Homo sapiens: one gene and its partners. The protein of the gene in region 1 purifies or fractionates together with the protein of each later gene. This does not show direct contact. Each region holds a gene or a part of one and is shown on either strand. Other genes may lie near its edges. The genes, in order: ARID2, DPF3, SS18 and SMARCA2.

The links.
Region 2: the proteins of ARID2 (region 1) and DPF3 purify together in Homo sapiens (affinity purification with mass spectrometry; 4 studies listed by BioGRID and IntAct, with this or other methods). This does not show direct contact.
Region 3: the proteins of ARID2 (region 1) and SS18 purify together in Homo sapiens (affinity purification with mass spectrometry; 4 studies listed by BioGRID and IntAct, with this or other methods). This does not show direct contact.
Region 4: the proteins of ARID2 (region 1) and SMARCA2 purify together in Homo sapiens (affinity purification with mass spectrometry; 2 studies listed by BioGRID). This does not show direct contact.

The regions. Positions count from the first base shown.
Region 1 is NC_000012.12:45,725,307-45,732,868, reverse strand, and holds the start of ARID2 (AT-rich interactive domain-containing protein 2), read right to left. Parts: upstream 3,164-7,562; 5' UTR 3,033-3,163; coding exon 2,941-3,032; intron 2,826-2,940; coding exon 2,732-2,825; intron 1,653-2,731; coding exon 1,555-1,652; intron 1-1,554. UniProt on the Homo sapiens protein: Involved in transcriptional activation and repression of select genes by chromatin remodeling (alteration of DNA-nucleosome topology). Required for the stability of the SWI/SNF chromatin remodeling complex SWI/SNF-B (PBAF).
Region 2 is NC_000014.9:72,883,667-72,891,390, forward strand, and holds part of DPF3 (zinc finger protein DPF3), read right to left. Parts: intron 1-7,724. UniProt on the Homo sapiens protein: Belongs to the neuron-specific chromatin remodeling complex (nBAF complex).
Region 3 is NC_000018.10:26,052,187-26,059,910, forward strand, and holds part of SS18 (protein SSXT), read right to left. Parts: intron 5,557-7,724; coding exon 5,403-5,556; intron 660-5,402; coding exon 438-659; intron 1-437. UniProt on the Homo sapiens protein: Appears to function synergistically with RBM14 as a transcriptional coactivator. Isoform 1 and isoform 2 function in nuclear receptor coactivation. Isoform 1 and isoform 2 function in general transcriptional coactivation.
Region 4 is NC_000009.12:2,018,166-2,025,889, reverse strand, and holds part of SMARCA2 (SWI/SNF-related matrix-associated actin-dependent regulator of chromatin subfamily A member 2), read right to left. Parts: intron 3,946-7,724; exon of another isoform or gene 3,773-3,945; intron 1-3,772. UniProt on the Homo sapiens protein: ATPase involved in transcriptional activation and repression of select genes by chromatin remodeling (alteration of DNA-nucleosome topology).

The DNA of each region.
Region 1 (7,562 bases):
CTAAAACTATTAGTATGAATGTAAACTCTTCAGAAAAATATACATCTCATGAATCATGTATATTCTATAGTACTTTCTGGTTATAAAACTTAAGTCAATCAATCTAACAAATATGAAGCAAAACTTCAAAAATATGTATTTCAAACAGTCCAAAATTCAAATGCTTTAAACTGATAAAAACATAAAACCAGAATATGTATTAACATGTTCCTCTCAATATCATAAATAGAAATGAGCAAATGAATGTCACGATGAATATAAAACTCTCTTGTTTCTCACCCCACTACTAACTCAACGGTTTTGGAGGTTAATTTTGCTTTTTGATTTAGCCCTTTAATTTAAAATGTACTCTGACACAAATGCCATCACACACACACAATAGATGACAACCATATTTAATATTTTCTAGACTTCCTGTGTAACTCAATAACTACTCCACAAAGTTCTGCGAACTCCAGCTTCAAGCCTGAAGTCAATCTAAGATAGCCAATAGAAAGTACACCTGTGCGATTACTGCATTTCCTATTTCAGAATGCTGAACGTAATACACAATAACTGAGTGCATCTGAAGCAATAATAAATGCAAAACTCAAATTATGCAGAAGCCACCTTACAAAAAAAGGCCTGTACTATCACTATTAAAAAGCAATAAATACAAAGAATATCATTTTAGTTTTTAATAACACCAACTAACTTAGGATCCTCTAAGATAAGCACTTTAAAAATAAAACACAGCATCATGATAAATTACAGTATGAAAGTATTCCTAGAAGAAAAACTAGAGGCAAAAAAAAAAACGCTAAATCACAAAATATATCATCTAGACTGTATCACATACCAACTGAATAAGAAATTAAACTTTGCCGAATAAGCAGTCAAAGAAGAAGAGGGAGAATGAAAGAAAATCCAGATTATAGTATCCCATTTCATAGTATCCCCATTTTCCTAAAGATATAATAATTTAAATTATCTAATTTAAATTACTAATTTAAGTCACTGGAAATTCAACAAAAAGTAATTATCAAAACAATCCTGGTCACCTAAGCCACCAACATGTTATGCCATGTAGGAATATTCTACTGAAAAACCTATTCAATGACACTGTTCCAAACAAGAAGTTTCATTAAAAAAAAAAAATTCTTAAAGCCAGAATTTTTAAAACTAAAGGAGTTTCCAAAACAAAGAAAAAAATTTTCCCAAAGGTTACAAAGTTTCATTAACTATCTTAAGTCTTTTACTAAGCATCACCTTTCTGCCCCTCAGTGGGTATCAAGCGATGAATAACAATGTCACAAAAGAATGTTTACCAAGATTGGGGCTGGGGTGTCACCTGTAATGATTTTGTATGAAAAATGTAAACGATCCTGAAATTGGTGAGGAAGACTTTCACCTTCCTACAATCTCACTTTATTTATATTAAATGTGTCTCAGTCTGAAATGAACAAGAGCTTAAGAACTGTTTGGTGTGCAAGGTTTGCTTTTGTTTTTGCTAAAAACAAATCTCTCCATAAGTCCCTTATTTCCAAATACTATGGAAAAGTCACTACTACTCACCGCAAGTAATACTGTTTTAAAGCAAAGGCAGCGTTAGAACAACTTCTGGGAAAGTTGAACTCTTCAACAATTTCTCCCCACTGATTCTTCTCAGAAACCTGGTAAAACACAGGCACAGTTGTCTGAACGTGAACAATCTAAGAAAATCTTAACCTAACTATGAAATAAATACCCATTCTACAGAGATCTGTAGATACCTAAGGCATCAGTGGGTGTTTCGGATCGATCGGTAAGAGTTACTAAGCAAGGGCTTCTTGAATCACTGTGTTTTCACCAGAGAGCCCTGTATTTAATACCACTTGTTTTGTTTGGGGGTGGGGGGGTTTGGTGGGTTTGTTTTGTTTTTGAAGCCCGGACAATAACCAATCGCAAGTCCCTCTGTCGCCCCCTTTTAAATCTCAACGCGGTCCGTTTACACTAAAAAAAAAAAAAAAAAAAAAAGTTCAAAAGGATCAATACAGTTCCGGACAGCGACGTCCGCGGGTTGGGGGGGGGGCCGGGGCTGGGGCCGATTCCGATCCCTCTCCCAGATCTATCCATCTCCATAGGCCCTTCTTTGAGGCCTACAGCTTCTGCCTAGCCTTGAAGCCTAAGATGGCTATTTGGAGACAGGTCCTGGTTTCTTTTGTTAGCTGTATAAACCGAGGGCGACGGGGCCGAGGCTGTGCCCCCGGCTGCCGGGATTATTTCGCAGCCGATTATCGATGTTAAACCTGCCCGCGCTAATTTTGAGTTGCACGAAAACTGCTCTCAGAGTCTGTGTGTCTCTGTGTGTCTCCGCCTGTGCTAGAGCGGCAGCGGCGGCAGAGCTGACTCGCGAGCGAGCGGGCGGGCGGCGCGGGAGCGGGGCGGGCGCGGGGCTCAGGCTGGCGCCCCGCACGCCCGCATTCCCCGCCGCGGCGCTCAGACCCCGCCGGCCCGACCGGGCACCGGGCAGGGCGCGAGCCGGCGCCGGGCCGCCCGCCCGCCGGAGCCCCGCGCCCGCCGCGCGCACGCGAGCCACCAGGCCAAAAACAGCCCCGCCGCCGTCCGCCTCCGTGCCACCGGCTGGGAGCGAAAAGAACGCCTTTTGCCCCCGCGGGCCACCCCCCCAGCCCCAAGCGCCCACTCCGGGGTCAAAGGAGACTTTTTGGAGGAGGCCAGCGAGAGGGAAATACAAATTAAAACTTCCACTCACCTTCGCGAATCCGCCTAAAGTAGTGACTCTGGTGTAGAGACCGTGAAGATCCAGCTCCTTCCCACCCACCGCAGGGATTTTTTTAAAAGGCGACCTGCGGGAGAGAAAAAGCCCCGCACTTGTCAGCCGGGACCCCGTGCCCGGCCCGGGCGGGAGAGCCCCGTTCGCCCCGGCTCGCCCCGGCGCTGCCCCCCCGGTTCTGCTCTCACCCTCTGCTGTGGTGGAACTGCCGCAGCTCGTCCAGGAAAGCGAGTCCCTTTCTCCGCTCGTCCGGAGGCGCCTTCCCCGTCGAGTTTGCCATTATTTTTTCAAAGGAGGTTTTTAAAAAACCCAGATCGGTGTTTTAAAAGCGCCCCCCGCTCCCAGCGCTTCCTACCAGAGCCCGGAGCCCATTCCTCGGCCGGCGGCGGCGGGGCTCAGTCATGGGCCGGCGGTGGCGGCGGCGGCGGCGGCGGCGGCGGCGGCGGCGGCGCAGGGAGGGAGGGAGGGAGGGGGAGGAGGAGGAGGAGGGGAAGGAGGGAGCAGGAGGCCAGGGGGAGAGGAGGGAAGGAGGGAGGGGAATTTCTAAAAAAGTTTAAAGAAATCGGAGCGAAACTAGAAGGGCAGGCGACTGCCGGATCCGCGCGAAGCCGCGGGGCGAGCGCGGCCCCCACCCCTTCCTTCCCTCCCTCCCCGTGGCCCGGCTCTCGCCCGCCTCTCAGCGCCGCCGGCTGAGGCAGCTCAGCCCGGGGACGCGATTCAACATGGTGCTGCTGCCGGGGGCGCGCGAGCGGGCGACGGGCAAGGCGAGCCGATGGTGAGGGGTCTGGGCGGCCAGAGGCCCAAGAGTTTCGGCGGCGGCGGCGGCGGGGCTAGGGCAGGCGGGGCTGGGGGTGGGGAGGGGGAGGTCTGTGTGGTGGTTTGTGGAAAGCGCGGTGACAGCGTGTATTTCGGCCCCGGCTCCGCGGGGCCCTCGCACACATTCACGCGCGGCCTCGGCCGCTGAGGCCGGGGCGTCCCCGGGCAGAAGCACCGGCGGCAGCTGAGCCGCTGCGCGCCGCCCGCCTGCTTCCCTCCCCGCCAGCCTCCCTCTCTGCCGCCGCCACGGCCTGGCAGCCAGTGCCACACAGCGACCCCCGAGGGCTGGCCGCGGCACTGCGCCTGGCTCCACACCGCCCCGGCAGATCCTCGCGGGGAACAATAGACTCGACTCGCCGGGCTTAGGGTTCGTCTGCAATGTGCCGCACATTTCACACGCACACAAAGCCGGCGGAAAGGGGGGCGGTGCGGGGAAACGGCCACTACCGGTTGTTCCAGGGTTAGGGGTGGAGGCGATGTTCGCGTCCCCGGCCCGGCTGTTGGAAGGGCCGCCTCGGAGTCCCCGCCCGCCCGACAGAACCGGTGTGGCGCTCTGAAGGGAAAGGAAGCTCACCGGGGTAGCCCCTCACGCTACGCAACATTCACAGATCGGAATAAAGTCAATTTGTTACCTTCTGTTTTTGTAAAATCTAAAGGAATCGGCTTTTATGAGCCGTATGCTAGTATTTTGGGGCCTGGTTAGCACATTTTCTATGAATTATCCACACGCTAACTTTAGCAAACTATACGTTAAATACAATGTGAACTGTCTGTCCTAGTTCTGTGGAAATAGAGTAATGCTCTTAATTCATCTTGCCGCTGGTTGGCTTCACATATCAAACTGGAGTATTCTATGAGCAAAGTTATGCAAACTAACTAAACTGGTTGGGAAGCAATCTATCGAACTTCGACAATAATAATTAAGGTTTACATTTTTATAGTAAGGTCTCTTCAAGATTGCTGCGTTTAAAATAAATACCGAATAAAACGTTTTTCCTTGCTTTCAAATGTCTTAAATGTAATCCTCGTTTAAAATATTTTGAAGGTTAAAAAAACCCTTTGCTTAAATGAGTCAAAACATCTCAACAAATACTACCACCTAAATTTGCATTTACGAGGGGTGTTGGAGCCGGCTCTTTGCTACAAATGTTAATTAAGATTACAGTACGTGAAACGTATTATTATTCCCATTTTAGTGACGGCCACCACGGGCAAAGTCACTGCCTAACCCAAGGTCACAGGGTAGTAGGGGTCTGGATGGGTTATTTCAGGTAGTCGTTCCAATGGGAACATTGCTTTGGAGGTGAAAAATTATGTAATATAGTGCAGCTTGCTTCCGGTGCTCACTCTAGGAAACGGACTTATTTCCCAACTAAAGTTTGTCTCTTAAGTGGGGTCGGAATAAGGTTGTGGCTAGGAAGATCCTGACAACCCAGGGCCAGTGAGTGTCTCGGAAGCCTGTGAGGGGCGGAGACCCGGCCCGGGGAGGTGGAGAAGCTCGCCGGCCGCGGAAGACTAGGGGTGAGGCTGCTGCGAGGAAGACCCGGTCAGCTGTCCCTTCCCCCATCGGTCCTCTTAGGGGAAGTGGAGATGTGGGCCTCGGAGCTGCGTGGCCCGGGCTGTGCGGATTCCCTAAACGCCGCACTTGCGCACAGCCCCTTACGTAACCGTCAGTGCCGGGGATTCCCTGGAGGGGGTCATTCTATTCAACCATTATACACACCCCGGGCTCCTGCCGCCGCGCCGCCGCCGCCTCACAAAATGGCGGCGCCCATAGAGGAGACCGCGGCCGCCTCCCCGGCCCCATTTTGTGGGAGGCGAGAGATCTGTCAACATGGAAAACCTCTGCTGAGGATGCATCCGAGTTTGGAAACCCCACTTAAGGGATGGAGCCTGGGGGATCACATTAAACGGAAAATGCCAACGACTTCTACCACCTCTACGCGTTTTTAGTTTTTCATTTTCTCGAAGGAAGCGCCAGAAGCCTGTGGAGTAATTGTAACTAGAGGGAGAACGGAAAGCTGAGGTGACTGCTCCGGGGACTTGGCGCGGCGCCTTGGTGGCTTTGGTTGCTCTTCCACGCTCCCGGCAGCTGACCAGAATCTCTTGGAGGGTCTCCTGGGCCACCTCGGCCGCGCCAGTCGTGCAGTGAGACTTCTGTAGTTTTAAAATGCCACAGTCCACGGCCCGGTCGGCACCGCTCGCCTGAATCGTGGGCTTTGGGAACCTTGGAGGCTGCTGCTCCAGGAACTCGCGGTCGGCCGGGAGCCGGGGAGCTTCGTTGCTGGGAGCGGGCGGTATTCGCGGACTCCGGCGGCCCTGGCGGGTCGCGGCCGGGATCCGAGCCGGGGATGACGATGCTGATGGAGCTGATGGGGCAAGAGTGGGAACGGAGGCACGTACACTGAAATTTAAGTCATCCAAGTTGGGACTTAAGATAGCAGGTTAATATTGTCTCAGGCGAGACTTAGAACGTCTTTTCTGGTATCCCAGTCTGCAGTGGGCAAATCTATTGTCTTTATTTCTCATTTAAGGGCAGAATGGAGGGATGACATATTTTTACTTTTCAAGAGGCGGTTGCCACTTTTAAGTCACTGTTGTGTGTGTGTGTGTACATACACAAACATACGATAGTGTGTTTTCAGAGCAAGTATCAAAGGCTAAAGACTTGGAGTGATACTAGTGTTTAAAAGCCTTTTTAAAAAAATTAAGATGTGATGAGAAACTGGAGAATTGACTTTTAAAAATTTCTTTTCTGTAGAAGAGGCTATCTTCAAAATGGAGTCCTAAAGTATATCTGATGGATAGAATTTAAATTCTTAACACTGTATATACCCTGTGGTCAAAAGCATCAACGTAAAACTTGATGTTTATCAGATTACTTATGTTTCAATTTTCCTGTGGTTAGAAAAATTAAGACAGAAGTAAGCTATTAACGGTATTTGCTTGTAAGAGTAACGTTAAAGGTTTAAGGAAAGGTTTGTTGAAATCGATATGCATCACACGAATCATTTATTTTCAATGTTGTTTTCCAGTTGCAGCAATCATTTGTGTTTACATGACTTTGAAAAAGGGTTTAGTTTATGTTGATTTTGACCCTCTTATTTAATCTCTAGTGCAGAAGTGCAGCTTTCTGCAGGCTGCGCCTCAATCGCTAAGTTCCACTCTCCATCCTCTGCCGCGCTACTCCTGGCATGTGGATCACCAAGATACAATTTCTGGTCCTGTCTGTTCTTATTGATGTCCTTTACAGTTAATAAATTTGATTGCCACTAATCAGTCTGTATCTCTTGCAAAAACACCACATTTAGCATCCAAGTAGAGTCAGAGTATGTTTTTTATGAGATTGTACTAAAGTAACCTTCTATTACATTTCTTATTACCATATTGCATTTCCTATAGTGGGCAGCATAGAGCAGGTGGATCCTGACAAAGTAATGTTAGAGATGTGCTGACAGCTTTACAATAGATATTCTCCAACTAATTTGACAAGATATAAAATAAAATGTAGTTCGTAGTTTTCAAGCATTAATGGAAAGTGTTCCTATTAAAAAATTACCAATAACAGTGGAAATTGTTGCAATCCAATTTGTATAGTTTACTGTTTTGATGACAAAGCGCTTATGATGGGAAAAATGTAGTGTTGCTTTTGTAACTGCAAACGCTGCACGCCGTAATTAGAGGTTTATGTTATTTTATTTGAATTTTTCATTCTTACCATCAGTTTTCATATTAGTCAGGAAATTGTGATAAATTAAAAATTCCCTCATTCAACTAAACCTTAAAAAACTGTACCCAGTTTCAAATCAAGCATTATCAGGTGTATGATTACAACAGCTGAAATAAATTGAGGAATTGGTATGCCAACTCAGTGGAGAAATTTTGGGATTTTAGGTCACTCTAAGATTTAAAAAAATAGTTTGATTCGTTAAACAAGGCTATTGAAGTTAAATTGATATTTCCTTAAAGATGATTTTAGAGAAAAATTCCTTGG
Region 2 (7,724 bases), on another chromosome or scaffold:
CCTGTAATCCCAGCACGTGGGGAGGCCCAGGTGGGCAGATCACTTGAGGTCAGGAGATCGAGACCAGCCTGGCCAACATGATAAAACCCGATCTCTACTGAAAATACAAAAATTAGCTGGGTGTGGTGGCATGTGCCTTTAATATCAGCTACTCCTGTGTCTGAAGTACAAGATCACTTGAACGTGGGAGGCAGAGGTTGCAGTGAGCCAAGATCACGCCACTGCACTCCAGCCTAGGCGACAGAGTGAGACTCTGTCTCAAAAAAAAAAAAAAAAGAAAAAGAAAAAGAATCCATTCTTGCCACTGACCTCCAATGCCAACAGCTCACTCTCCTTATTCACAAGCAGATCTAAGCCCCTGCCCCGCCTCCACTTCTTCTCTCTCCCTCAGTCATCTCAGTTGAAGGAGGAGCCAGAGACCAGGCAAGGACCAAAGGCCCAAGTTCCCAGAAGAGCACCCCACTCTACCAACCGCGCTTCTGCTTCCTCTGGTTTGGTGGGTGAACTCAGGTCAGGGCTATGACCGGAAATGAAATGAGGGTTTCCCCTGAGCTCACATTCTCACTTATTTCAAACCCAGACAATAGGAAAATCCCACTGAGATCCCAGGGCTATTTACACAGCCTGGATGAGTAGACCTTGCATTTCCTGAGAAACAATGATTAGATGTGATGGGTAATGCCAGAAACATTTATTTTTGTTTTAATATTTAAAATAATGTTTAATATAGTAGGTATTATTGACTGCCTGAGGAGGCCATGATCAGCTACAGGAAACTTTTAGTTCTCATAGTAACACCTCACATTTGCACTTTCCACCTTCTGAAATGTTTCCACATCCATTATTTCATGTGGGCCGCTGCGGGGAAGCCAGGCTGGAGGAAGGGGAAGGGAGGAGAAGGGAGACACAAGCTCTCCTGGCTGTTTGGAAGGACAGGCCTGACTTGCTAACTCCTGCCCCCCAAGCTATCCTGTCATCACCGTGCTTCCACCCACCTCCTGTTGTCAGACATCACATCTCCATCCACCTAGGAAGCCTTCACTCCAAGCCTCACCAGGTAACTGCTAGTGCTACAGCCCCTGGAACTGCCTCAAACCCAAACCCTGACCCCCACGAGGAGTCCCTGCCCTCAAAGGAAGGGGGATATAGGCTGGGCACGGTGGCTCACGCCTGTAATCCCAGCACTTTGGGAGGCCGAGGCGGGCGGATCACGAGGTCAGGAGATCGAGACCGTCCTGGCTAACACGGTGAAACCCCGTCTCTACTAAAAATACTATATATATATATATATATATATATATATATTAGCCGGGCGTAAGGCGGGCGCCTGCAGTCCCAGCTACTCGGGAGGCTGAGCCCGGGGAATGGGGAATGGCGTGAACCCGGGAGGTGGAGCTTGCAGTGAGCCGAGATCGCGACACTGCACTCCAGCCTGGGCGACAGAGCGAGACTCCGTCTCAAAAAAAAAAAACAGGAAGGGGGATATGAGGGGAAGGCAATCCCTGTGGCTGGGGATGGGAGAATTGAGTCTCTGGGTTCCTAGTTCCCAGTGTGTTTATCCCAGAACGCAATGGACTACCAATAGAGGGAGAGGCAGAGAGGTTGAATTCTGTAATACTATTAGGTTTGGGTTTTTTTGTTTGTTTAGTTTATAAGGTGGAGAATGCCTATATTATCTAGAAATGTAGCCGCTAATTTTTTGGGTTTGTTTGTTTGTTTGTTTGTTTGTTTGTTTGTTTGTTTTTTGAGATAAGGTCTTGCTCTGTCACCCAGGCTGGAGTACATGGAGTACAGTAGCGTGATCACAGCTCACTGCAGCCTCAACCTCCCGGGCTCAAGCCATCTTCCTGCCTTAGCCTCCCGAGTAGCTAGGACCACAGGTGTACACCACCACACCCGGCTTTTTTTTTTATTTTTTGTAGCGACAGGGTCTCATGATATGTCCAGGCTGGTCTTGAATGCCTGAGCTCAAGGGATCCTCCTGCCTCAGCCTCCCAAAGTGCTAAGATTACAGGCATGAGCCTAGCTTAGTCCCTAGATTTTACAGTCCAAAAATGAAGGAGACCTAGGCATAGTGAAAACCCAAAAGAAATGAAAATGGGGACTCAAAAACAGCCAAAAGGTGAAACAACCCAAATGCCCATCGGCAGTTAAACAGGTAAACAAAAAGTGGGCTATCCATACAATGGCCATAGAAAGGAATCAAGTTCTGACTATGCTACAACATGGATGAACAAACATTGAAGACATTATGCTAAGTGAAATAAGCCAGACACAGAAGAACAAATATTGTATGTTTCCCCTGATATGGGGTGCTAAGAATGCAGAATGGTGGTTCCCAGGGATGGTAGGAAGCAGGGGATGGAAAAGTATTGTTTAATGCATACAAAGTTTCTCTCCGGGATGATGAAAAGGGTCTGGGCAGCTGGGCACGGTGGCTCATGCCTATAATCCCAGCACTTTGGGAAGCTGAGGCGGGTGGATCATCTGAGGTCAGGAGTTCGAGACGAGCCTGGCCAACATGGTGAAATGCTGTCTCTACTAAAAATACAAAAATTAGCCAGGTGTAATGGCGCATGCCTACAGTCCCAGCTACTCGGGAGACTGAGACAAGAGAATCACTTGAACCTGGGAGGCGGAGGTTGCAGTGAGCCAAGATCGCGTCACTGCACTCCAGCCTGGGTGACAGAGCGAGACTCCATCTAAAAAAAGAAAGAAAGAAAAGGGTCTGGAAACTGATGGTGGTGATGGTTGCACAAGGTGGGAGGATCCCTTGGGGCCATGATTTCAAGACCAGTCTGAGCAACATAGCAAGACCTCCATCTCTACTAAAGATTAGAAATAAATGTACTTAATGCCACTGAAATGCACACTTTAAAATGGCTAAAATGGTACACTGTGTGTTATGTATATTTTAGCACAATAAAGAAAAATTGAGGGAATGCCTCTCTCTGCTGGAGGTCAGGGTGACCATTTTGTTTTCTCTTTAAAGTCTCAGAATTTACACACCAGCTCCTGTGTAGACTCTGATGAGTTCTGCAACCTCCTCCCCCTTCTCTTTATGCTTGCAAAAAAACTGCCATGGAAGCTTTCCACCAAAGAAAAGCCTGATAATAATGTCCCCACTGAAATCTGAGATGTTCTGGAGACATGTCACTGAAGGGGAGGCATGAAGTCCAGTCTAGTCTTGGCTAATACCCACTCAGGTAGGGGCTAGTTCCACACAACTGCTGGGCACCTCCATTTCCTCAGCAGTAACACAGGTATGCTAGAGGAAGCTCAGTGAGACATCAGTACAGGTCCACTTACTTCAGCTCACTAAACATCCAGGTATCTGTGGCTGCCCAAATTAAAATAAAATAAGCACTTTATTTTCAGATTAATTGGGATAGGTGCCATGGTAGAGGAGAAGGCCAGAGAGATCATGGACAAATAAAGTCCAGACCGGAGGACTGGCTGGAAAATTGGTTACCCTTCTGCCTCCAAACACACACACACACACACACACACACACACACACACACACACACAAAAGGAAGCAAAATACAGATGTTCTCAGTGATTCCAGTCTTTTAACCACCAAAAACTGAGTGCTTATCCACGTCAAAATAGGCCAATTGGTCTTCAAGTTCCTCATTCTCATCAGCTTCTGGATGGGATGCTAGTGAGAAGAAAATCACTGAAAAGGAAGAGCCAGAGGAAAAGCCCACATTCTAAATGGCCCACCACCTGGTCCTCAGCCTCAGACCTTGAGAAGGGATAGGAAGTTCCACCCAGCTTAGAACCCCAAGAAGGGAGCACCATGTAGCAAGACTGAATCAGAGAATAAGAAACTGTGGAAGTCTCCAGTCTTAAATGTTCTCTTTAGAGCCACACTTTAAAAATAAGAAAAAATCAGAACTCTGGCCCCTAGCTGTCCTCTCTGTCCTAATCCACCATAATAAGAGCCAGAAAGTTGTTGGCTTGAAAGGAATTTGGGGAATCAAAGTACATCACCATCATAAAGACAAGGAATATGCGGCTCAAAGTTCTGTGTCCCAGATCACAAGCTAGTTGCCTGTAGCTCTGGAAGCGGAGCTCAAGGCTTGGGATTCCTCTCCCAGAGCTTTTTCTCCTCCATTACTCTGAAGTCACTAAGGCTACAAAAAATCAGCCACTGGTGAGAAATGAACATGGAAGAGGAAAAGAGGTTGAGACGGGTTTCATCAATAGCAGGTGAAAGTGTGAGGATGGGAAAAACTTTCTGGTGGAGCTTCCAAGTGCAGATCATTCAAACAGCAGATTTTCAAGGTGAATAACAACAACTAAAAAAAAACCTTTTATCAGCAACCTGAGATGATCACAGTCCCCAGATTCAGAGAGGGAGGAGAGGGTGCAAAGTGGGGATTAGACATGTGCCAGCATTGTTCCGCAGGCTCAGAACTGAGGCCTGGCTGGTGAGGACTCAATGCGGGCTATTTGAACCCCATTATTAGGAGCTCTGAACCTAATCCTCTCACCCCTCCCTGCTTCCACACATTGCCCCTAAATTGTAACCTCTTCAGGGATTCTCTCCCTTCCCTTGCCACTGCCTGCCACACTAATATTCACAAACACACAGCCTAGAAATTCTCCAGTCTGCTCCTCTTCCCTCTGCCCCACCAACACCTCCTAACCACTGCTTTTAAAACTCTAATGCAAATCACAGGCTTCAAAAACCTTCCCTCAGTGACAGTTTTACGATGCTAGCTCCATTCATCCATATGGTTTGACAGACTGTGAAACACCAGTAACCGGACCAATAAGAAAAACAAATTACAAAAACACTACAACACCTCATCTCTCCCCAGTCACTCAAACAACTAGAAAACTTTGGAATTTGCAATGGATCACAATATCAGTCTCTCTTGCAGTTCAACAACAATCTTTGCAGAGTTCCATACCACACAGTGGTTTTACCCACTCCTCCATCCTCCCCCTACCCAAGGCCACTCTCCATCTTTCCTTGTTAACTACCTTCATATTTAAAGACTATTTAAAATTAGGGCCATGCTTACAAATTCCCCTGTTGGGTCGTAGCTGGGCAAAAAATATTTCAGTGGTTGTGGGATTTTTTTGGCCAGAGGTTTGCAACATTTGGCTACATTTCTGTTTTCTAGTGACTTTCAAAACACTCAAAAACCACAAAAGTTACTTTGCAGAGGTTGGGATAATAAACAGGCCTGGATTCTGGTGCCTCTTTATGACCCAGCCCCCATCGCCACTACTGTCAGCATAGCTGCCTTAGAAAACTGAAACATCAGCCTCAGTTTCCATTCTTTTTCTGGTGCATGATCAAAACAAAACATGCTGACCATGACATTTTATTTTTTGCATTGATCTGAACAGATGGCTCTGAAACAGCTTTAGACATTATGGTCTTTCTCAGATGTATCCAAATTCCAGCTACCTGCATGATTCCAAAAAGAGGAGGATGAGAGGTCTCCAACTCAGCTGTCTCTGAATTCAAGCCCACCTTATGTGACTAAGCAGCTCCCATTCAACTGGCAGTCTTCAATGTCTCCCGGGAGGCCTGCAGACCAGGCTATTTTCAGAGGTTTACCCTGTGACAATGCCTCCACTTGGGTTCTCGCAGACATTAATCTCCATCATAGGTGTCTCATCAAAAGCAGACATTTACCCATTGAAAAATAATGTGTGCTAATGAGGTTTGGAGAATTTAGGGCTTTTTTATAGTGGCAACCAGAAGCAGATGGAGAACAGGTTCTTGGGAATCTGTTGGCTTACAACGTCCGAGGGTCCTTTTTCATAAGAAGCTAAAACAATGTCCATAAAAGGCAGCAAGTTCACAAAGTCCCGGCCTCAATGCTGTCTACTTAGTACCTACCCACATCCCCCCAACCTCGACAGAAAGAGCTAAGAGGAGATTAGAACCAGGAATGTGACCCCCACCCCTTCCCCTCTGATATCTAAACTGAGTGCCACAGCAAGAGTGAGGTCTGGCTTCTAACTTTCACATGCACAAAACCACTTTAGATTAGAATACACTAATACAGGTCATAGAATGCACAAAGAGATCTAGATTTGACGTTCATCTACACACATGACCTGCTGTTTGACTTGGCTAAGTAAGTTTATTTTCTTCTCCCAGAGTAGTGTTCTTAACAACAAAACAGGGACATAAACACATACCTCCAAGCAAGGTTAACTCCTTACAAAAGAAAGTTTCAATACAATCACGTATATGTGTGTGTTCACAGTTATAAGCATGACAAAATAGTTTATGGGTCTCTTTATAAATAATTACTTAAGGTAAAGCCCTGTTGGTTCATATGGAATTTAATAATAATAATTTTTTTCTAAGTAGGCAATTATAATAATAGACATATATGTGTATAATCAAGTCTGGCAGAAGGTGGCAGACATTCTCAGTTAAATGCATACCAACCAGGATTTTGATAATACAAGAGTAAGTTGTTTAAAGTACTGATTGCAGATTTGGGGGAAGGTGGTTTATCTGAACTAGAATATTAAGATTCAAATTTATATTAAAAGCATTATGTGGCCAGACATCGTGGCTCACTCCTATAATCCCAGCACTTTGGGAGGCCAAGGCAGGCAGATCACTTGAGGCCACGAGTTTGAGACCAGCTGGCCAAGATGGAGAAACCCCGTCTCCACTAAAAAACACAAAAATTAGCCAGGTGTAGTGGTGCGCGCCTGTAATCCCAGCTACTCTGGAGGCTAAGGCACAAGAATCACTTGAACCCAGGAGGCAGAGGTTGCAGTGAGCCAAGATCCTGCTGCTGCACTCCAGCCTGGGCAACAGAGCAACACCCTGTCTCAAAAAATAATGATAATAATAATAATAATAATAGCATTATGTTTCCCAGGTATGCACAAATCAACCAGAACGTGACTAATCTACATGCAGGCCTTTATCAAATCCATATTTATGTTACCTGCATGTGTTTACTTCACTACCTGGGCCTTATCTCGCTTGTATATGTAAGAAATGAGGGTAACTCTCATACATCTTTGCTCAGACAATGTAGCTGCTAAATTAAATAATATGTAATACACATTTACACATCATACATGTCCACCAGTGCTTTTGAATTCTATTTGTCCAGATGTGACTGCTTGGTTGTGGGGGCCACCTGCCGTGTCCCCTTTGTGATCTGATCAGTGCAGGCGGCTCCTATTTCTGCCTCTAACACCCTGTTGGGCAGTAATAAGATGTTAAAGGCGACAACAGAGAGAGAAGCTGGGCTGTCAGCTTCAGAGAGGAAGGGGGTGAAGGGTACAACAAGGAAGAAAAAGAAAGGGAGTTGAGGGGAGATCAAAGACAGGCAGGAAGAAAGCCAAATTGCTAAGAGAGGAGATGTGGCTTCAGGAGCTTGGGACCCTAAGGAAAACCCCAAAGCAATGAGATTCAAAATTGTGCCATCCCATCACCCCAGCTAATTGAATTATTGAATGTCCCACGTGGAAAAAGCTAGTACAGTGAAAAATAGCCCATACTCAGCGTAGGCAGAGCCCTGCATAGGTGCTGCTGGAAATCTGAGCTTGTTTCTTCCCAACACATTAACTACCACCACTTTATCCCCCCATCCTGAGGAAACCTTTGTGTGACCATTTTCTGTAGGAGACGTCCGTGGTGTTGGCTTTTTTTTTTTTGGAGGGAAGAGAGAGACTCAGAACGCACACAGAGAAAATGCTAATGTCGTTCAGCTCTGTTTCAT
Region 3 (7,724 bases), on another chromosome or scaffold:
TCTAATGGCAAATTATTTTAGAATTACCTTTTAATGCTGAAACACAGCATCAGAAAACATCCATATAAATCAAGGGGAATTCATATAAATTAATACATCCTTAATAAGTAAAATGAAGGAGCAGGTGTTTATTTTCTCAACTTTCTAGCTAAACCAAATGTTTGGTTCTTCATTGACTGGCTTTAAAAAACAATTCTCAACAATACAGAACCTCAAACAAACTGTCCAAAAGACATAAAAATAAATAAGCTTAAAAAGCTACATTGAGCAAAGAGATTTAAACTAGCTTCAAACTCAACATCTCCTTTTTATGGGCATGACTGTCACTCACTTTAAACTTTTATTTTTATGAACCAGCTAAGAACCTGACAACAATCATTTTACTTTTCAAAGGCTAATAGAGCACTCTAGTCAAGAAGGACATAAAGCTTAGTTACCTTGGTTTGGCTGCATACTCATATTTGGTCTGGGACCATAGTTTCCCATTGGTTGTCCCTGACTCATTGTCATCTGATTCTGTACTGGCATGCTCTGTGATGATGGCACAGAATGGTTGTAACCTCCCATGGATCCATGGCTACTTGAAGGCATATTCATGGAACTGTTTGTCATATTGAGTTGATTGGGTCCAGGTCCCTGCATAGGCATATGGTTAGGCCCTTTGAAGAAAAATGATCAGAAGCAAAATATGAAAGTTAAACAGATGGTCCATACAAAAGTACCTGGAAATAATTTTTTTTTTGCATTATTATAGTAATACCAAACAATAATTAATCGATAGCAAAGTAAATGGTTTATAGGAAAAGACAGCAAATACTGTGAAGTAGTTATTCCCATTTTTGGATTAAGAAATTGATGCTTTTGAAGTCAGGAGCACTCTGAAAAAGAAGGAAGGACTAGCTTCTTCATAAAAGAGCAAAACATATCATAAGGTTGGAGTAATTAACTATGAACATAAATGAATAGACTAACAGATCGATTGAACAGAACAGAGTCTAAAAGTAGACCCAAATACATAGCTGAGTAAATAATCACAGTAATATTAAGTATTAGTGAGCAATAGAAAACTAATTCAGTAAATGGTATTGTGACAACTGGGGAGCCATCTGGAAAAAACAAGTTGGATCACTATCTCATTTGTTCCACTAACTAATTCTAGATGAATAGAAAACTTAAACATTTAAAAAGAAGAAACCATAAAAGAATTTCAAAAAGGAGAATTTTAAAAATAATAATGGAAGGACCTTCTTAAGTATGCCAGAAAACCCTGAGCCATAAAACATTGATAAATTAGACTATACAAAATTTAAAAATTTGCACGACATAAAAAACTCAAAATTAAATAATAAAAAGGTAAATAAGAAAATATTATTTATAAGATAGATCGCAGACCCAGACCAAATTAATTACTTAACATATGAAGTAAGTAAAAGACCACCACCAGTAAAAGAATGGGCAAAGGACATAATGAGGGAATGACTAGTTCACACAAAAACTACAAAAAGGTTCATCAACATTAAAAGATTGATTGCTTCACTTAAAATAGGAAGGCAAATTAAAACTATGAGACCGAACTTTCACCTCTCAGATTCTCAAAAATCAAAAGTTCGATCTAACTATATTGTGAAGAAAGAAGCACTTTCATCCATTGTTGAAGGAACAGAAATCTTACTTATATTTCATGGGGAATCAAGCTTGTGGAATCAAGGGTGGGATCAAGCTTGAGGAAATTTGTGATGACAAACAACAATTCAAATAAAGTAGTTGTCCCTCAGTATCTGTGGGAGATTGGTTCCAGAACCACCCACAGATTTCAAAATCCGTAAATGCTCATGTCCCTGACATAAAATGACACAGTATTTCCACATAACCTATGTACATCCTCTCATATACTTTAAATCATCTCTACATTACATGTACTGCCTAACACAATGTAAATGCTATGTACATAGTCACTATACTGTGTTGTTTAGGGAATAATGACAAGAAAAAAAAAGTATGTACATGTTCAATACAGTCACAATTTGTTTTTCCAAGTATTTTCAATCCACTGTTGGTTAAATCCATGGATGTGAAATTCATAAATGCAGAACTGATGGATATTACTATTTTTACACAAAGCAATTTGGCACTAACTGTCAAATTTTAAAATATATATACCTTTAACCCAGCAATTTCAGTTCCAGGAATTTATGCTAGAGATATACAAATTTTTGTGTGCATGCGTATTGACACACAGAACACATATATATGTGTATATATATTTTTACAGCAAATTCATGACAGTATAATTCATAATAACAAAAGACTAGAAGCCTATGTTTCCATCCTAAATGTTCGAATAAATTAAACTTGTAAAAAAGAACATGATAGAGACCAAAAAGAATAAGGCATCTATTTACATATGGAATAAAATAATGGTCTCCAAGATATATCTTTGAGAAAGAAAAGATACATAATAGTATTTAATGAGTGCTATCATTTGTACTTTAAAAAAAAAGAGTAAAAATAAAGGAAATACACATGCATTATTTTATATAGAGAAAATCTCTCTCTCTTTTTTTTTTTTTTGAGACGGAGTCTCATTCTTGTTGCCCAGGCTAGAGTGCAATGGTGCAATCTTGGTTTACTGCAACCTCCACTTCCCGGGTTCAAGCGATTCTCCTGTCTCAGCTTCCCAAGTAGCTGGGATTACAAGTGTGTGCCACCACGCCAGCTAATTTTGTATTTTTAGTAGAGATGAGGTTTAACCTCACTGGTCAGGCTGGTCTTGAACTCCTGACCTCAACTGATCCACCCACCTCAGCCTCCCAAAGTGCTGGGATTACAGGCTTGAGCCACCATGCCCAGCGAGAGAATATCTCTTGAAGGACAACTAGAAACCAATGCCTCTCTAGAACTGTCTGGAGAGGTGGCGGCTAGGCATCCTTTGGTATCCTTTGATTTTGGTCCCATAGGCATGTATTACCTAGCTTTTAAAAAATCAATTAATTTTTTAGGCTGGACTCGGTGGCTCATGCCTGCAATCCCAGCACTTTGGGAGGCTGAAGCGGGTGGATCACCTGATGTCAGGAATTTGAGACCAGCCTGGCCAACATGGTGAAACCCCATCTCTATTAAAAATACGAAAATTAGCCAGGTGTGGTGGTGTGCGCCTGTAATCCCAGCTACTCGGGAGGATGAGGCAGGAGAATCGCTTGAACCCGGGAGGCAGAGGTTGCAGTGAGCCGAGATTGTGCCACTGCACCCCAACCTAGGCGACAAGAGCAAAACTCTGTCTCAAAAAGAAAAAAATAGTAATTTTTAAAAAAGGGAACCTGAGACTGAGTAGTGATTTGACCCAGATCAATGAGAACATAAGTAGCTCTAAAACTGAGTCTACATAATGAAATATACATTAAAAACCAAACTGAAATAGGAAACAGCCAAGATGCAAATTTGTGTGCATAAACAGGTTGGCTAAATGCTATAAGGAACAAATAAAGAAAATATAAGTTACTGGCCTTCCAATTTCTCCTACACTTAACTGTAACTCCGTAACTATTGTTAGGAGAAATTCTTTCTGTTTTTTTTTTTTTTGTTTTTTTTTTTTGATGGAGTCTCACTCTGTCGCCAGGCTGGGGTGCAGTGGCGTGATTTCGGCTCACTGCAACCTCCGCCTCCTGGGTTCAAGTGATTCTCCTGCCTCAGCCTCCTGAGTAGCTGGGATTACAGACGTGCAATACCACGTCCAGCTAATTTTTTGTATTTTTAGTAGAGACGGGATTTCATCATGTTGGCCAGGATGGTCTCAATCTCTTGACCTCGTGATCCACCCGCCTTGGCCTCCCAAAGTGCTGGGATTACAGGCGTGAGCCACCGCGCCTGGCCTGGAGAAATTCTTAACTATTGTTTCGGAAGCTCTATAGTATTCTGAACAACCCAGGTCATAAGTGGTTGATAATAACTAGCTTATAAAAGAATATACTTCAGAAGGCCTTACACAAAACCAAAATGTCATGTTAACCATAACTGTACTGCTGCTCAAATGCTTCTTTGGCCTTAGGCTTCAATGTTACACAGAGAATTTAAGTCAAAATCCTAATTCAAAGTACCATCATAAAAAGTCACAAAACTCCTAACTAGCTAACCTGCACTATCACTACCTTTCCAGTTCTAAAAACAGTGTGTCCTGGTGAACTAAATGTGGACTTGGCAAGAAGCTTTCTCTTGACTACAATATGACTACAAACTGAAAAGCAGTGATGTCTTTATTCCTACCTCCATACTGGATGTGTGCCATATATGTTGCAAGCCTTAGCAGGAAATAGGAGACAGCCACTGAAACACCACTGCCCTCCTATATGATCAGTCACACCTCAATCTTCTATAAGCCAGGCTACCTTACCTCTTTTGCTCTGTGCTCTCTTGTTTCCTTACTGCACCCATCATCCTTGGACACCAATGCTATCAATCAACACAATCGGCTACAGAAAACAGTATCCTAAAGATGCCAATTACTAATTTTAATAATTGTTCTGTTATTTTATTTCCATTACTGCTAGTTGTATAATGTCTTCTTTATCAATGAAAATAACTTTTGTCTTAGAAGGTAAAAATATTCTGATACCTAATGTAGATAATATTCTACCAAAAATTACGGCCATGGGTTGATGCTACTGTTACAAAAACAAAATAGTGTAAAGATACTTGTATGATTAAAATTTCAAACCAGCCAAAGGTAACTAAATCAGCATCCAATGTCTTAAAACATATCAACCTAGTGACCCTACACTTAAAATTGACAAATAGAAAAGAGAATGGCTCAGTGTATAAATAATGTAAGGAAGTTTACATTATTTTTCAGCCTTTAATTTTTGCTTTAAAATCAATTCCAATATTTATGTTATGCTATAAACCTATGTATTAAAAAAATTTAGATTCAGCTTCAATATCAATAAGGAAATACTAAATACACCAGCACTTCAGAGACTGTTTTCTTTCCCCATGTGTTTTTCCCAGTGATACTGTTTCTGAGATCAATCAATATTTAAGTAAATAAAAACTCAGGGAAATGTTATAATATCTTTTTTAAACAGACTTTAATTCTTAAGCCATGGTGCAACGCCTTTTTTTCCAAAAAGCTTCTAAAGCCAACTGTATTGCAGTTTCAGACAGACTAAATTTAGCCAGTTCTGTTCATCAGAGGAATGGTGTGTGTCAGCTACATCAAAGCCCAAGGGCAGCCTGATAAACACTGAATACAGGTCACGTAGCTCTGTAGCTAACAAACTCTAAGAGAGCTTGTACTCGGGGGCATTCAAAGCAGTTTTGTCATCAACAATCTAGTATCCCTTGAGCCCCCATGTCGTTTCAGTTGCTAAGCAACTCTGGTGTTAATGTCTTAGAGGAGAAAAACTTACCAGGCATCTGGCCGTTCATCTGGTTCTGCATGTGCGGTGCAGGAGGACCCCCACCTACCATTCCATCTGAAGGCATGTTGTGAGAGCGTGGAGGTGGGGGAGGGCCGCTCTGATTCATCCCTCCAGGACCCATAGGCATATTCTGTGTGGGTGGCTGAAAGAAGACAGTTTAGTAAAACAAGAGAAACAGACTAATATACGAAAGATGCATAGGGTAAAAGAGTTGCTTATGTTACTAAATTGCAGTAAGAACAAAAACACAAATGCATTTCGAATTCTTCTAATGCATTTTCATCATGAACATAGTTAATAACCCCCAAAACTTTAAAGCATATTTACTTTATAAAATCTCAGTAGTGAAAATTAAAATGTTAACATTCTATACAAAAAATTCTCATTTATTTATATATTAAGCATTTCTAATGTGTCTATTATTATCTAAATTATGTGAAAAAAATTAAATGTCCTTTCATTATTGATGTATTGGATACACTTATTAATGATGGATTTTACCTAAAAATGTACAGTAACAAAAAATGATGAAAGGACTCTAAGTCCCAAAATGTGCCATATTTTACACTATTTCGGGGTGGAGGATAGTGGCAGCAGAGGAATGTTTTAAAACATGAAGACAACAGTTCAACATTTTTGTGCCGACTACTGCTATAGATTGGAAACATTACTGATGGCCTCCAAGGGTACAGAGACAGCTGCCTCAAAAGGATGCCCTTGGCAAATTTCCTAATGCAATTTTGAAGAAAACCACTGACTAACCTTCAGAGTTCACAAAAGGGCAAAAGGAAAAACAGATATGAGGTGGTCTGCCACACCTGGGTCCCTTCTTAGGGATATTTTGGTGGAGAAAGCAAACGGTTAGTTTCGCTCCAATCCCCCATTTTTAATCTTGTAGGAGGAGAGGGAGGCATTATTCTTTACTTCGATGTTCTAAATGTAATGTCCATTCCTGTATTATCAGTTGTTCTCTTCCTCCTACATTTAAAAATGGCCAGTTACTGTATGCCTTTCCATTTTGTGAACACAATTCTCTTTGGCACACTTAATAGATACACATTGTTATTTGGCCATCACATTTAAATACTCAAACCTCCAAACAGTTAATAATCACTAACATTTACAGAAATAAACAAGTCTACTCTAATAGCACACATTTTAAAATCAGAATTTTAATTTCTTCACAACTAAATCCAGATGAATGCTCTTATTTTCTCTTAAATTCTCATATTATTTCTCCAACTTGTATTCTTTAAACACTTAAAAACCTTGTTCAGTTTTCACCAAAACAAACAAAAAAACAAACAAAAAACACTAATTTGAGTCATATTATCTAACTTTTAATCATCCTTATTTATCATCCTTCAAACCTGGCTACCTTAACCCTCTTCTGTCTGAAAACAGAAATCCTCCTTCCTCTATTCTTGTCCAAATTTTCTGTTAAAAATTCATGTTCTCACTCTTAATAGTGAGGTCATTTTCTTGTAATTCAACTAATAAAACATCATTACTGTTACCACCATGCTAGAATAACTTGTATCAAACTAACCCTCAGCTAAATAAAACTCATAAAATCTAGACAAAAAGTAAAAACTGTTTGAAGCCACTAAAGAGTGACTTACACAAAGAGGAACAGAAGGGGCTACAACTCCTGAAAGAACGGAAGCATATAAGACCAGCTCCACAATTATCTTGGCTTTTTCCTTGAGTTTGCTGAGTAACAGGGAAATACAGCTCAAGTAGAAAGTGCAGTCCAATTGGACTAAGGAAAAAAAAGAGTCAGAATTTTTGACTATCAAAGAGCTGGAAACTAAAGAATAAATTTCCAGAGAGAAAGGACCACAAGAGGGGAAACATTCAAGAAAACTAGTCGAAATAGCAGGTAGGAGGCTAAAGAGCTCAGCAGAGATTCCAGCTGCTGCTCACTGATATGGAGACAAAGACTGGAGTGTAGGCCCCACCAAGTTAGAGGAGCCTTCATAAATAACTCCAACTCTCTGTTGAGACTACAGAAGGGCCAGCTACTCCTTAAGAGTAAGGTCGAAATTGAAATAGATCAGCCCTAAAAAGTCTTATAACCAACCTTTAATAGATTCAAGGTAACCTCCTAGTACTTCACATACCAAAGGAAAACTTAATTCTCTTTGGAGCAAAGTAACACAAACTAGAGCTTCTATAATTGTTCAACCACAAGGTCTAACACTCTTAAAAATTGCAAGGCTTTCTAAAAAACAAAAATAAATGACCAACACCCACTTTGATAGCTGCAATAACATAAAAATTAAAAGTCCAGAAAAATAACAAGTGTTG
Region 4 (7,724 bases), on another chromosome or scaffold:
ACCATCACCCAAGTAAACCCAAGGGGAGGACTCTCTAAGATGAGGCCTATAATCCTGGCCTCTTATTCTTCCTCTACATTTCGGGTGGCAATTTTATTTTACAGTTCAAGTATGTAATTAAACTTTCCCACAGTATGAAGAAACCTGGGGAAATAAATTAGAAAGAGGTGCTAGTCTCAAGCAGCACATCATTACTAAGTTAGTATGGTTAAGGTTTAAAGTCCAGTATTGGCCAACTCCACTTCTCCCTCACCAGCCCTGCCAGTATCCCCTGGACTCTCTACCCCTTTCTTCTCCAAAGCACTAATGAGACAATAGAGATAGGGTGGTGACGACAGCAGTAAGCATAGTAGGGTGGGCTGGAGGAGAGGGCCCAGATGGACTTCACAGGGCAGTGGTAGGTCTGCTCACATAATAACACACAAAATCTATTTTTATTTTGTGTTAGGAGAAGGAGGGAGTTTCCCGTTGTCACAGAAAAGAACGACCTGTTCCACAACTATGTGTCTGTGGCTAAAAACATAATGACAAAAATGTATCTGGGGAGAGGGGGGCACAGCAACCTCCCCATACACATGCATTGCTGGTCCCCACCCTCCCCCAGACCAGGACTCCCCGAGGGCCAAACCACTATGTTCTTAGGCAAGAATTTCTCAGCAGTATACTCTGTCTTGATTTCGTCCTTACTTCCCACTTTCCTACATTCACAACTAGAGAGTGTGTGTTTTTAAAAAGAAGAGGCCCCAGAGGAGCTTGCCAGAGCTCCAAACACCACAGTCATCCTCCCTCAGCCCAAATCTCCTCTGCCCTTAGCTGAAAGGCTCAGCACAGCCATCTGCATATTAAAAGGAGTTCAACTTCATGGAATTTTAAGGGTCACCACTCCAACCATGACAAAACTTGTGTCTTACAGTCTAATTGTAACCAACAGAAACACCAAAGACCCCCACATGTGGAGTAATATTTGAACACACCTACATGTGTTTCCTAATAATTCTGGTGATTTGAAGAGACATTTTGCCACAACGCCATTGAAAAGATGAGGGCAATAAGGCAGAAGGGGAAAACATGGCTTGCCCAAAGTAACATCTGCAACAGGAGAGAAACCGCAGGCAGAATCTTTTATCCCTTGACTCCCAGCCCAACACTGAGCTATGACACGGATCTAGCAAGCCATGTTTCCACCAGAGTTTTCACCAGGCCAGAGCAATGTGCAGGGGTAGAAAGTAGAAGCCAAAGAAAAAAAGGTCAGAAACAGTGGAAGGGATATCTTGCAAGGACTAGGCTTTGGTTGTGATAATATATTAACTTACCACAGGCTAGAGAAGTAAAGAGAAGCCCTGGAATGTGAAAAGAAGACCATGTCATCAACTGAAAAGGTCGATGATGTTTTAGTTACCATACCGAGTATCTACTAGGTACAAGGCATGCAGGCGGTACAAAAATGAATAGAAGGCTTACCCCACAACTCTGGAAGTCTGATACGGAAATCAGACTTGTGCGTAAGTAGCAACAAGATAAAAATATTGAAAGATCCTGCAGGACACGGAGGGGTACAGCCAAACTATCCAACACAGTCATAGAATGGGAGACATTACCTTTAGCTCAGAGGTTACAGGAGAGAAAGGAATTAGGTAAAGTGTAATGGAGAAGGTAGCATTTCAGCAAGGCCTTCAAGTTTAAAAAAAAGAAAAAAAGTTCCCTAGAAACTTTTGGTTTCTAGTCGCAGAGTTTGGGGCAGCACACCAACCTTGACAATATCTCTTAAATTGCTCTTCACCAAACTTCATAAGAAAGCACAAGGAAATCTTGGATCTCCAGCCTGTCTTTTTTCACAGCTCACTTTACAGAAAAACTTGGAGGTCCAGGTTAAAGGTGGAATATCAGAAATAAAAGTTAGGCCCAGTCCACATCTCCAAGAATATCCCAGTCTTATTAAAGTGTTCTGGCTGTTACAGGAGAACTGCAAGGTTCAGGAGATAGTTAAGATAAGAGTTCTTTTTATGTCTGTTTGCTGATTCAGAACATCTCCCCTGACCTGAAGGGCTGCCTCTTGTTTTGTATGTGGCTTTCTCTGTAAATGAATTGATAATTCACCCACAAGAAGTAGCAACATCTTCAGAACTGGGCCTCAAGCACTGTTATTCTTAATGGGGAAGCAGTGCGGGGTGGGTAAGGAGAACAGCAATGCAGATAAAGGAAATAAATCTACCCGAAGTTTCCTTTTTACAGGCCAAGGTTGTCGGGATAAGCGGTGAAACATTACCAAGGCCCACACTGCTTCTTGGTCTGAGCTGTGCAACTTTAAACAATGCATAATGTGATCTGTCAGATACAAATCACACCGGGTTCTAAAGTTAACCTTATAAGTTGCTCCATCAAGACCCTAGAAAATCACTGAGAACATTTCTTCAGCATTCTTGGGGTTATTCACAACACTTTCCCATTCGTTTCAAAGTCAAATATGTTTTTTAAAAGTTGTTAGATTAAAACTTTGCTCTGTTCCTTGGGCTTCTGTGAACTCTCCTTCATCTTTCAATCAGGGCAACAAATTAGGATGTGGGTGAGCTGCTACCCTCACTTTAAATAAACTGCCTTGGGAATGGTCCTTGCCCAGAGTCAGACCTGGCAAAGGCTGTGAGGCAGCTCTGTGCACAACAAAAGATAACAACAAACTCGGCAGCAGCTAATTAGTCCCCCATGAACCTCAGACACTGCCTTAATAGGATCCTGGCTCTTAACATTACCACCCTTATAGATACCATGAGTTGCCATCTCAAAAGAGTCTACCAGCGATGCAATTTCATGGCCTCTTCCATGAGGACTGACAGTGATCCCACAAAGGAAAAATTGTTTTAAAAAGGGAATTTACGAGAAAACCTAAGTGTTAGAAACCCTTTAGAGCAAAGCATCCTCTACTCTGAGACTCATGTCCATTAGTAGTTATAAAGGTAATCACAGATGAAAATCACTTTTAAAATTCAGTGGAACCCAAAGGGCTGGGCAAACTGGTCAAAACAAAAGCTAACAAACTGAACAAAAAAAAGTTAGTTTCAAATCATGACACCCTGAAAGGTAATATGTCACGTATATTTACACATATGCCTGTCTCTCCTAGGTTAGGCCCTTTTGCAAAGCAACCTCATTCTGGATGTTGATAAGAATCAACAACAGCCACTTCCTTTTCTGACTGCCAAGATAAGTTTATTTATACTTTAAACATATAAAAAGAAGAGTCTGAAATACATACTTTAAAAACCTGTGGTTAAAATGGCACATTTTTACTGAAGAGTAAAACTCAACCATCATATGCTGAATGAACTAAAGTTCTATCATAGGCACTCATTAATGTCAACTGGCCCTGACTTTCACAGTAGCAACAACAATTCAACAATGAACTCCAAGTTCATTGCAGTTAAAATGGATAATAGCCATTAATGATGTTACTATGCCTTTTAAAAAATCAACAAATGAGTTCATTTAACCTCTCTGAGTTTCAAGCTCCTTACCTACAAAATAGGCATAACAGTAGCTGACTACAACTTCAATTTTGATACGAATCAAATAAAATATGAGATATGAAGACACCTTGTGAGCTACTATATGCTCGCATTATTGCCAGGATCCTTCTAACAGCTTCAATTCCCACTCTGGACTTGAATCCACAATTTGCCAGATTAATCTAAAATATTGCTTTGTTCATGTATTCCCTTGTTCAAAACTTCTGAGACAAGCCTCCAATACAGATTGGATAAAATATTCATGCTTTAACCTGCAAGTCAAGTCTTTCCACAATCTCCGACTTTATCTTCTGAAAATTCTCCCCAACTGGAACTTCTTGCTCCAGGCAACCGGTCAAAACAGGTACATTGGTCTTTCCACGTTCCTTCAGGCCGGGTCTCTGTGATCTCGCCGGGTCTCTGTGATCTCGGGGCTTTCTTCTGATCTGGGATGCTCAGATGCCACCACCCCCACCTCTGCCCTCCCCCTACAGCAACCTTATCCCATCTCAAAGACCTTATCTACCCCATCAGCTCAAGAAAGCTCACCCTGATCTCTCTCTCTGTATCACATGGCCCATGCAGTTTACCATTTGTTACTTGTATTCAATATGCTATTATAAATACAATATTAAATGTTCAGGTACATTCTTTAAGACACATAAATTATCAATTACAGATCATCTATTTTTTACAGAATTTTGGACTCTGCTTAATGGTCTTTTAGTATAGCACAACAGCAAGCCACAAAATAATTGTGACTATTTGCAAAGCCATTTATTACATGTCCAGTTCAACAAAGCACAGGGGGGAAGATGGGAGAGGGCTTTCCTTCTGGACATCCAATATCCATGTGTGATAAAGCATCTCCCAGTGGGATGGTAAAAACTGAAATATACCACATCAAGTAGGTAAAGAAATATATAATCATCCTGAACCAGAAAAATACAGTTTAAGTGCAAACTGATACAGAATTTCCCTTGGATAACCTGTAAGCCAACATATGACGTTCCTTTTTGGTTAGAGATTTTTATCATTTTTAAGTAATTTTGAATTCCAAATTCTGAGTTTAGTTGTTTTTGTTTTTTTTAAAGGAGGGAGTTTCAATTATATTTAATGGTTTTCAAACTTTAAATATTATTTCAACTTCTGTGGGTCCCATTCATCAACTTACAAAAGGGCCAGCCCATATTTAAATTAGGCCAGTTTCTAAAAAGTTTCTAAAATATTACTGCTTGCATAGATGTAGATGACATACTGGCATAAGATTGATGCTTAAATTGATACTAATCCACCTAAAAATACTATAGAATATTGTGGTTTTAAAAACTGTTGTAAATCTTACAGGTATACGGCCAGATTACAATTGTTCAAATATTCTGGAAGTCGTAGCTATCTAATAAAATATCCTAATTCATACTAGGCTTCAATTATATAATAATGTATTACAAACCCAGAAGTCCAGAAGGACATTATGTCAGAGTTTCAGGCCAAAATCTTGTATTCCATATCTAAACCATCACTCCAAATGTGTAAATTAATGAGGTGTTTATATCAAACATTCAAAAGACCAGCTATTTTGTTCCTGAATTTCATTGGCTCTATTGTATGTTTTTCTGAGGTACAATTATTCAAGCATCTTTGACGATATATTTATAACTTTTACTACTTAAAAGCTCTCTTTAACATATCCTACACTTTCAAGGAAAAGTGCTATATTAACATGGGTAATAATAAACTCATAATAAACAGTAAGAAAGCTGCAGTTTTGCCAGCCCAGGTTGCAAGATCCCATTTAACTTAATGATAAATATCTTACGTAAATAAATATGCTCTCTTTCATAATGACTCTGGCAGAACATAGTTTTAGACTCCTATAGTCCCTAGTAAGTATAAAGTCATAAGTTTCTATATAGAAAAAATAATCACTCCAGGCCTTCCTAAATATGCTATCAAATAAATTACCACCATGTGTATTTTCTATTCACTACTTAGCGAATGACCCATGGCTTTATTAACCGGCTAAAGGTTAGAGTCCCCTAATAAGAACGCTTCCAAAAATGACAGAAAATTCACATCCTCTATTGGCCAAAGACATCTCCAAAACACAATATTTAAGGGGGAAAAAAAAACAATTTAGAAGATAATTCTTTTACATTAAAAAGGAGAAATCAGAAATAGCCCCTAAATGTGGCTTTCATACTAGGGAAATTTTCTCATCTGTTCACAAGAAATACAGCAGAAAAGAAATGTAACTCATATAGTTTTCTAAGGTAACTCAAGTTAACCAAAGAATTTGTCCCTATCGTCCCTTAAATCATCTTGACCAGAAACAGAATCAAATCTTAAAGTGGTTAAATCAGGTCCTACCAACACTCCTTCCACTTGCAAATGCTGGGAAACAGTCCTTAGTATTACATATGTGATAATTCAGTTGTCCTCATGGCACCATGTCAAGATGTCATAAATAGTGATTTATTATTTCTCTGGGGTATCAAAAAGCTGCTGACCTAGAAGAGTTTGACAAAGGCCTTGTTTACAAAGGAAGATTTCTAAAGGAGAAAAAAAAAAAACAAGAAAACACTGGAGGACAGCACCACTTTTATAATTTATAAAACTCTTCTTTTTATGCTCTTGCTGTAATACATAATAATAAATGTCAAAATATTACAACAATATAAGGAGCATCACAATTACCTTTTAGAAAAGGATGTGATATGCTTTTATACTGGCCTGTAGAATGATTTATCTTAAACTTAATAAAAGAAAAAAATTTTAAATACTTATCTGCACAAGTGTCACTTTCTAGTTATACCATGTCAGGAATACTTTAAATAGAATTCAAGCATTAACAATATAATACAAGCCGAGGCACTTTTTTTTTTTTTTTTTTGTCAATTCTAAGCCTCAGGTGTTGGTCAAAGCACTTTTCAAGAAACTTGACGAGAAATGCTCAAAAACCACTTTACAAACGAACAAAAGAAAAGATCTAAGGCTGCTTTGAACATGCTCTTGTGGTGAATATTTTCTGTGAAACACCACAGTGCACCTAGTCCTGATGCTGGGCTGTTACTGATATAAGTCATAAGAGAAAGGCTGCATTGAAGGAAGCCCTCCCTCCCCTCACCCTCTTCAAGGGTTCTGATACCCCACATTCCTCATTCATTTGAAATGTTCTTTACAAAAATGGCATCTCTCTGATGCCCCCAAGGTAGACGGACCTCTGATCTACTGGGTTGTTTTTTTTTTTCCCCTCAGTCTACCGCAATAAGTATCTTTTGGACCTAACAGGTGTCTCTAAATCCCCTCTTTACAATAGCAAACATTTGCATTGTAAAGAAGCATTTGAGGAAAAAAAGAAAGAAAGTCCAAGAGAATAAAAGAGCAATTAGATTCCTCAAAGAAAAAGTGTGTCTCATTTTGCATAACAATGCAGCAACTAGGATTCAAATCTGCCACGCCTCTTAACACTTCACCAGTGTGCTAGAGGTAGCCTGGAAGCCTAAAACTCCAATGCTGGCCAACAAGCTTCTGGTTGTGGCCCCCCTGATAACAGATGGAAAATACTACTGAAAATATTTGAATGTGAATATGTAAGTATACACACACATAACATTGGGTATGGCTTTTTAAATTATTATTAGGGTTCTCAATGGTTTCTGAGTCTTTGGTGGTTGGATAGAAATTTTCTGCTACTCAACGCCCAAGCAACAATCTCATTATTTATGCAAGCATTCTGTTCAGACAAGCAAGGCACACAACCAGGTGTAAATTTTAAGTCCTTTGAAATGGAAGTTTGAAATTCGATATTGGTAACGCAGAAATGTTAAAAATAACCGCTCAGTGCAGTCAACAAACTGTGTATCCTTAATGTCTTCCTTGAGCTCTAACAGTACACATACAAAGTCATACATGCCTACATAATGACCAGAAAGGAGACAATGATGACACCTCTCCAAAAGATTACTAGCCCAGGTCGCTTTGCTTTTTCCAAAGCACCAACCTCCATCAGGTTAGGGAGGAGGAAAAAAAAGAGACAACCTTGCAAAACTCACCCAAAAGTTATATAAACAAAGGAGGGGAGAAGCCCAGTCTAGGCTTTGCACCCATGTGCCACTAAAATTACATAACACCCGGTGCAGACATTGAATAAGGAATGGATTCTGCACAACACCCCCACTCCCTCGATTCCCAAGCCTTCCTCATTCCCTTAAAAAATCCAAA